2 linked regions of the Homo sapiens genome follow. The protein of the gene in region 2 purifies or fractionates together with the protein of the main gene of each other region. This does not show direct contact. Each region holds a gene or a part of one and is shown on either strand. Other genes may lie near its edges.

Evidence for each region. Proteins that work in one complex are often made in the same cells at the same time.
Region 1: the proteins of TM4SF18 (region 2) and TMEM65 purify together in Homo sapiens (affinity purification with mass spectrometry; 2 studies listed by BioGRID and IntAct, with this or other methods). This does not show direct contact.

Annotation. Positions count from the first base shown.
Region 1 is NC_000008.11:124,370,906-124,374,654, forward strand, and holds the start of TMEM65 (transmembrane protein 65), read right to left. Parts: upstream 1,797-3,749; 5' UTR 1,253-1,796; coding exon 949-1,252; intron 1-948. UniProt on the Homo sapiens protein: Essential for maintaining proper cardiac intercalated disk (ICD) structure and function as well as cardiac conduction velocity in the heart.
Region 2 is NC_000003.12:149,319,969-149,323,717, forward strand, and holds part of TM4SF18 (transmembrane 4 L6 family member 18), read right to left. Parts: intron 2,469-3,749; coding exon 2,288-2,468; intron 1,525-2,287; coding exon 1,510-1,524; 3' UTR 1-1,509.

The DNA of each region.
Region 1 (3,749 bases), on a different chromosome or scaffold from region 2:
AAGCAATGTGTTTTGTTTACATAACTGTATTTAAGTGGCAGAAATATTTTAAGACATCCATTTTAGTCGTTTGCTCCTTTCATCCTTTTTATTTTCTGAACTTTTAGCTTTTTCACCTAGACTCAAATTCTGCCCTACCCCATTCTGGACTCCTTTTAGAAATATCCTATTTTAACATGCTAGTTTAAAAATCGTTTTGCTTTCATCATTCCCAATTACTTTTGAGCATCAGTCTGACTTTTACTACAGAGCCACAGATTTCCAAAAAATATACCTCCTTATTTATTTCATTCTTTCAACCTCTGGGAAAAACCAAAACTGGAGTTTAACTTGAATCTGTCTTTCCATTTCTGGAGAAAATGTTTCCTTTGGCTGCTGAAATTAACGCAATCAGACATGTGTGGAAACAAGCAGCTATGAGCATCCCTGACTTTCGAAGCTACACCCCTTCTTTTGGCTACCCACCCATACGTCTTCATTTGATAACCGTTCAAAAAGTTTCTTCCTGCCAGGCGGGTTTGCAGCACTTTCTCGGAGCAGGCACAGCATGCCACCTGCACGGGTGCACGCTCGCAAGAAAGCAGCAAGGGCTAAGGGACAGGAGGGCTGGGGAGGGGAGGCACGGGGCAAATCAAAACTCAATCCCAACAGCGTTAACTGGCATTTTAGGCCGAAGCTCCGGATTCGGAGGCTGGGGAGGAAGTAGCTAGCGCTGGCCTCGGCTGCCTGGCACGACCCGCGCCCGTCCTACCTGCCTGGGGGAAACTCGGGCGGCGGAAAGTCTCCCCGCCCCCAGCCGTCCCAGGCGTGGGGCCAGACAGGCGAGGGGGGCGGAAGGGGGGCGGCGGCGGGGGTCCAAGATCCAGGGCCGCAGCGGGCTCCCGGTGGGCTGGCGAGAAGAGGAGGGCGTCGGGGCCCCCGGGCTCGCCCCCCACCTGCCCCCCTTACCTTGGGCAATGGCAATAGACTCGAAGCGGTGCAGCTCTTTGAGCAGGCAGCTCCTCTCCGTGGAGTGCAGGCTGTAGATGAAGTCGCGCGCGCCCTGCGCCGTGTTCAGCGCCTCCATGGGCTCCTTCTTGGGGTGCGTGCCCAGCCGCCTGGGGCCGCCCGGCAAGCCGCCGGGGGGCGCGAGCGCCAGCAGCCCCCGCCCGCAGCAGCACCAGGACGGCGGGCGGGGCGCGGCGGCGGCGGCCGGGCCCGGCCTCAGGCTGCGCGCGGTCCGGCTCCTCAGCAGCGGCAGCAGCCGGGACATGGCGAGCTGAGGAGCTGGGACCCCCGCGGCCGTCCGGCAAGGCGGTTTCTGGCGCGGCTGAGGCGAGAAGGAGCTGGGCTCAGCTCGACCCCGCCCCGAGGTCCTCCTGCCAGGCAGCCGAGGCGCCGGGCACCATGCACTCCGCGGGCCCGCGCGGCTCTCGCCTCCTGTTCCGTCCCCACTTCCTTTCCAAAAGGCCCGCGGCGGCTCCCGCCCCTCCGATGGGAAAAACTTTCTCTGAGACGGCCGGGCCCGGACAGCGCCCGGAGAGGGCGGGCGGTCGGTGCGGGCGGGCGCCTCCCGGCTGAGGAGGAGCGGCGCGGGCGGGCGGGGCGGGCTAGTGTGTGTCTCTGTCAGTCTGATCTTCCAGAGGATGAGTCAGCCACGCACCGCCCTCCTCCAGCGCCGCCCTACTCTCCCGCCAGCTTTCTCACCCTCTAGCCTCCCCACGTCCCCACTCTGTAAGGTTCCCGAGCCCTCAAAGCAGCCGCGCTCCCGAGCCGCAGCCGCCGCCGCCGCCGCTACCCCTAGCGGCAGCAGAAGTGGGAACGGGGCGGGGCGAAAGGGGAAGGAGGTGCGGGGGGGCGGGGAGGTGTGTGAGCGAGGCTGCGCAGGCGCAGTCTGCAGGCTCTCGGGCCGCCCTCCCTCCTAGGGGAGGAGCGTGCACACGCGTCCCCTCCCGCGCTGGTGCGTGAAGGTGGAAGGAGGTAGGGTGCGCCACCCTGTGCTGGCGTTAAACCTACAGATCGGAATAGGGAAAACGAGCTCTGGACCCCTCGCCCGCCAGGGTAGTACAGCTGCCACCCGGCCCCCAACCTGGGGCCACATCTGGAGCTTGTTCTGAAAGGTGCCCCGGCGTGCGGCCCCGCTCTGGACAGGCGGAGAGCTGCGCTGCCACCCCAGCCCCGACGGGATCACGGCGCTCTGCTCCGGAACGAAGCGCCCCAGCTGCGCCCTTCGCCAAGTCAGCGCCCACCGCCGCTTCGGCCGAGCAGGCCGGCTCTAATGCAGTCGCTCTGGGCGCCCCAAAGAGAAAGCGAAGCCAGTTCCACCCCTGCCCAAGGAGGGTCTGAGACTGAGCCCTTGACACGAGAACAGTCCTCCCCGTTCAGATTCCAGCAGCTGGCATGCAAATTGTTAATGCTAGAGGCAGAGGCAAGAATGTCATAGACCTTTCCTAGTGGTTGCTTGTGATTTTTTTGTCTCTGTGCTAAAGCGGGAAGAATAATTTGATTGTCCACGATTTCCCCTGATCCAGGTCCTAGGCATCTTTCAAGGCCCAGGTGAAAGGTCTCCTACTTCATTAAGCTGTCCCTAATCTCTTCTAAGGGAGGAGATCTCTGCTTTATCTGAACCTGTCTAATGACGCTTAGGCACCCTTAGAGAATAAATCCACTTAATAAATCTGCTGGAGCGTAATCAAGATCTAAATCCCATCCTTATCATAAACAGTGCTGCACTCAGCCCGGAAACTTGTAGGTAGTAAATGTGCTACATGTAAGTAGAATATTAAACTGAATAATGGAGGATTGTTACCACTAAAGCCTCCTACTTCTCTAACTCTGGTTCTCAAAGTGTGTCCCAGAGCTTTTTAGACGTGAGAAATAGTGGACCCCACTTCACACCTCCTGAATCAGAACGTAGACATTGGACCCAGTCATGTGGGTTTTAACAAGCCCTCCAGTAATAACACACACGAAAGCTTGAGAAACACTGATGTCTCTTAAACATTGAAAGGAATCGCTTCTTTTTTAAATTCCAAGGTGATGCCTCTGTGATGTAATAACAACAATTAAGAATGCTCTCTGTGGAAATGAAAGCTTTTTGAGTGCATAAAGTATATCTTCCTTGTCTTTGAAACCCCCTTCATTCCCTAGTGTGCACTGGAATCCTCTGCAGAGCTATTTCAGTCTCAGGCTCATGGGAGTACCACCCCATCCCCCCCACAATTTCCTACCCCCAAGATATTCTGATTCACTGGGGTGGATCACAGGCCCCAGACCTGGGAAGTGAGGTTTGAAAAAAGTTCTTCAGTAAGAACCCATTCCCAACCACCTCCAGAATAGTAGTTTAGTGTGTAGCCTCCAGAGACAGACTGTGGAAAGTTCGATCCCTGGATCAACCGTCTCCTAACTATGTGTTAGTATTAGATTGTTATAGTAGTGATCCCCAATGAACTACACCTTCTATTATCCGCTCCGTTGTGTGGTCCACCTCTACATTGACTGTGGGCTTGGCTATTTGACTTGTTTTGGTCAATAAATAGGAGGACATCATAAACGTGATATGATACATGTTTGCTCATTGGGGTTTGCTGTAATGCTTTTGCTATATTACTATAGAATATTTAATTCTATTATAAAACAAGAGAAACTAAAATGTAGAAGCAAGTCACTTATGAGAAAGGTTACACATAGAATGAATGGATATGGGTTGAACATAGATAAAAAGGATGGAACAAATGAAAATGCTGCTTTAGATAGAGGCAGAAAGACAA
Region 2 (3,749 bases):
ATGAAGGTCATGCGGTGTATAACATGGCTTGCTTTCAAGATGCTTGTTTCAGCAAAGGCTGTGAACAAGGCTTAAAGGGGGCTGTTGGCACAGCAGGCATCAAGGAGAAAGATATTCTCTTCCGTATCCCCCCAGCCTACTCCCTGGCTTTGGCACAGAGCAGGTGTTGACAGACCATTGTTGACAGTGTCCATGGAGGAGACAAATGGGGAAATGGCAGAAGTGTTGAGGCCCAGTGCACCTGTGATGGAAGCAGTGCTCAGCAGGGTAACTACAGGAAGCAGAAAACCTGGTATGAGCATTCAACACTGAGTGCCTACTGGCTTCACTGTGTGCTGGGTCCTATGCATGGTGGGAAATATATAAGATGTGGCTACTGTCCCCGAGGAAGACATGGCATGTATAGGTGGAAAATTTGTAAGTGTTCTACTTTTTAATTACTTTAAAAATAAATATAGGTACTGGTAACTCCCCCTGACACAGGTATTGACTGGTCAGTGGTCATTTTCTCTTGCCCATTGAGCATGTTCCCTAGCTGCTCACTTATTTTAAGGCTACCTCTTCTAGTCCATCACACTCACCCTCAGGAGTCAGAAAGGAAGAGCAAGAGTTTAGATTGTATAAGTTTATATAAAACTCTTTTTGGCTCATCTATATCACTACTTTCCTCATTGAATGTTGATGGAAGTGTCATTTCATGATGTTTGCAAATAATGTTGAGGAATGTGGAAAGAGCATATGCCTTAAAGTTTGGAAAAATAAAAAAATTTTAATAGTGAAAATATGAGTTTAGAAAATATTTATAGTAAAACATATTCAATAAAGAAATCTTGGAAAATATAGAAAAGTGGGAAGAAGGGTCATCAATGCCCCAAACCAAGCATAATTGGCATTTTGTTATATTTCCTTTTAGATTTAGTTTTCATCCTAAACTTTGACTATTAGTGTTTCATTTGCTTTAAATAGTTATATAGTAAACATGAATTTGTAACCTGCTTTTTGATGTAGCATTATTCATAATTTTAAAAACATCATTTGTAATGACTGTAATTTTACAACCATGTAGTACTCTTTATTTTTTATTTAATTTTTTTTTTAATATCAGAAAACATTTACAGTATGTACCACTCTTTACTTAATCCTTCCTCTGAGTTTAGAATTTTGGGGTGTTTCCAATTTTCCAGAATATTAAATAATGTTGCAATATACATATTTGCATAAAGGTTTCTCTCATATTCTTATTTACTTCCCTAGTACAGATTCTTGGAAATGGATTTGTTTGATCAAAGGGCAGAAGTATTTCTGAAGTTTCTGATGCATATTACTTAAAAAACATACTAAATGGAAGGGTGGTATACTTGCATGTGCAGTGAGGACTGCAAATTTTTTACAAATAAACACCAAATGCAGAAAGCACCATCATTTCAATATTGCCCTCAAGTCTACACAGTTGATATAATATTTAGATAGATGGCCATGTCTTGATAATGGAAAACATTTTGTCCTTATTCAAATGATTCCAGGCTATAGGAAAAAAGGAAAAACAAAGTGATTAAAGTTATAAACTTGGCTTGATTAGTAATCCGTAATCCAGATAGCAACTTAAACTTATATTTCATATTCAAAATATGATAGAACAGAAAAAACATCTCTTAGAAATTGCTAGGAAAGGTATTACACATTCTGTTGTTAAACAAAATACAAGCCATCTAAATTCATAATTTTTCTTCACTCTGGACTTCTTGATAGCAGTTTCAACCATAACTAAATTAACATTAGTATTTTAGCAGACGAAGTAGAAGTAGTTTCAATGGGATAAATACATATTTCCCTTCTTCTTCAAAAGCACTCCTATGCACTCGAGATAAAGGTTCATTAGTTGAATGTAGCAGCATTCAGAAGAGAAGTTATTTCAATGAGATAAGGTTCTGAGCCTTTGCTTAACTTATGAACAGGGAAATTCTTGATAAATGGTAAAATTTCATCATGCTTTGAGTTATCTCTATGTAGAACACTAAAACTTTGCTCATTCAAAACACTTATGAAGCCTTACCATACAACAAGAAATGCAGATTTTACAATTACTGAGTTGATTCAACCCTTATAGATAAGCCAAGACACATTGGGATATCAGAAAAAATTGAGATATTAGAGCTTGAATAAAGATGAGGGCAATAGAAATGGGGGGAAAGTGATGGAATTCTAGAGTCTTTTCAAAAAGCCTCATTGAATCCTGGGAAGTGGGGGAAATATGGATGAGCTACAGGTGCCCATGAGAATCTGTTACCTGGAAGATCACTGAATAGCTTCCACACAGTATCTTGGATAGTTGCATGACTACTCTGATGAGGCAGATGATCACTTGAAGCCCACTGAGGGTTATGAGAATGGAAAATAAAATGATGTTCCACTCCACAACATGTGCAGGTTCCAGGCACTGAATCCATATGCTAGAATCTGTAAGGAAACTGAGAGAGACCCATGGCCAAATCTACATACTGGGTCCAAGGAAGAAAGCTACAAGCATTTGTATGTTTGAGAAATTACTGTATAACTAAAATATATAGTTATTAGATATGAATTAATACATTTTAAAAACCATTCAGATACACATATTGGACATATCTTATGCATAGCACTGAGCTAGATACTTAGTGTGTTATAAATGTTGTGCTTGCCTTATCACCCCCATGGCCTCTTTGTTTTTCTTTCTCCCTCTTCCATTTCTTTCCTACTTCCTTCTTTTTTACTCTTTCCCCACCTTTATTTATTTTCTACTTTCTAATGCTCCAGGAAATAGAGGCACTCTGAGAATTTCTTTATATTGTTAATGGCTCTTGTCTCCAATGGGAAAGAGCACAGAATATGAAATCAGAATTCCTGGATTTGGGTCTGCAGGATGTTGAGCAAAGAACTTTACCCCTCTGGCCTCCAGACTTTTTTTTTTTTTTTTGAGACGGAGTCTTGCTCTGTCGCCCAGGCTGGAGTGCAGTGGCGCATCTTCGCTCACTGCAAGCTCCGCCTCCCTGGTTCACGCCATTCTCCTGCCTCAGCCTCCCAAGTAGCTACAGGCACCCGCCACCACGCCCGGCTAATTTTTTGTATTTTTTTAGTAGAGACGGGGTTTCACCGTGTGAGCCAGGATGGTCTCGATCTCCTGACCTCATGATCTGCCTGCCTCACCCTCCCAAAGTGCTGGGATTACAGGCATGAGCCACCGCGCCTGGCCCTCCAGACTCTTATCTTGATAATGGGGTTAAAATATCTAACCCCAGAGTTATTGTGAATATTTGGTAAGAATGTGTATACAAACAGTTTGGAACCTGTAAAGTACAATACAGATGTGGCTTTCTGTTAAATTTCCCTAAACCTATCTCATACCCCCATTTACCCCTATCTCCATCTCAGCTGCCAGGGAAATGAGTCCCTCCAGATCCCTCCTCTAGACTGTTCCTAGTACATGCTCTGCACAGATCATCTAGCAATTTAAAACAAGATGACTTGCAATGTTGCAGGAAGTCGGGGACCCCAAATGGTGGGACTGGCTGGAGCCGCGGCAGAGAAACATGAATTGTGAAGATTTCATGGACATTTATCAGTTCCCAAATAATACTTTTATAATTTCTTATGCCTGTTTTTACTCTAATCTCTTAATCCTGTTATCTTCATAAGTTGAGGATGTACACCACCTCAGGACCACTGTGATAATTGTGTTAACTGTACAAATTGATTGTAAAACATGTGGTTTG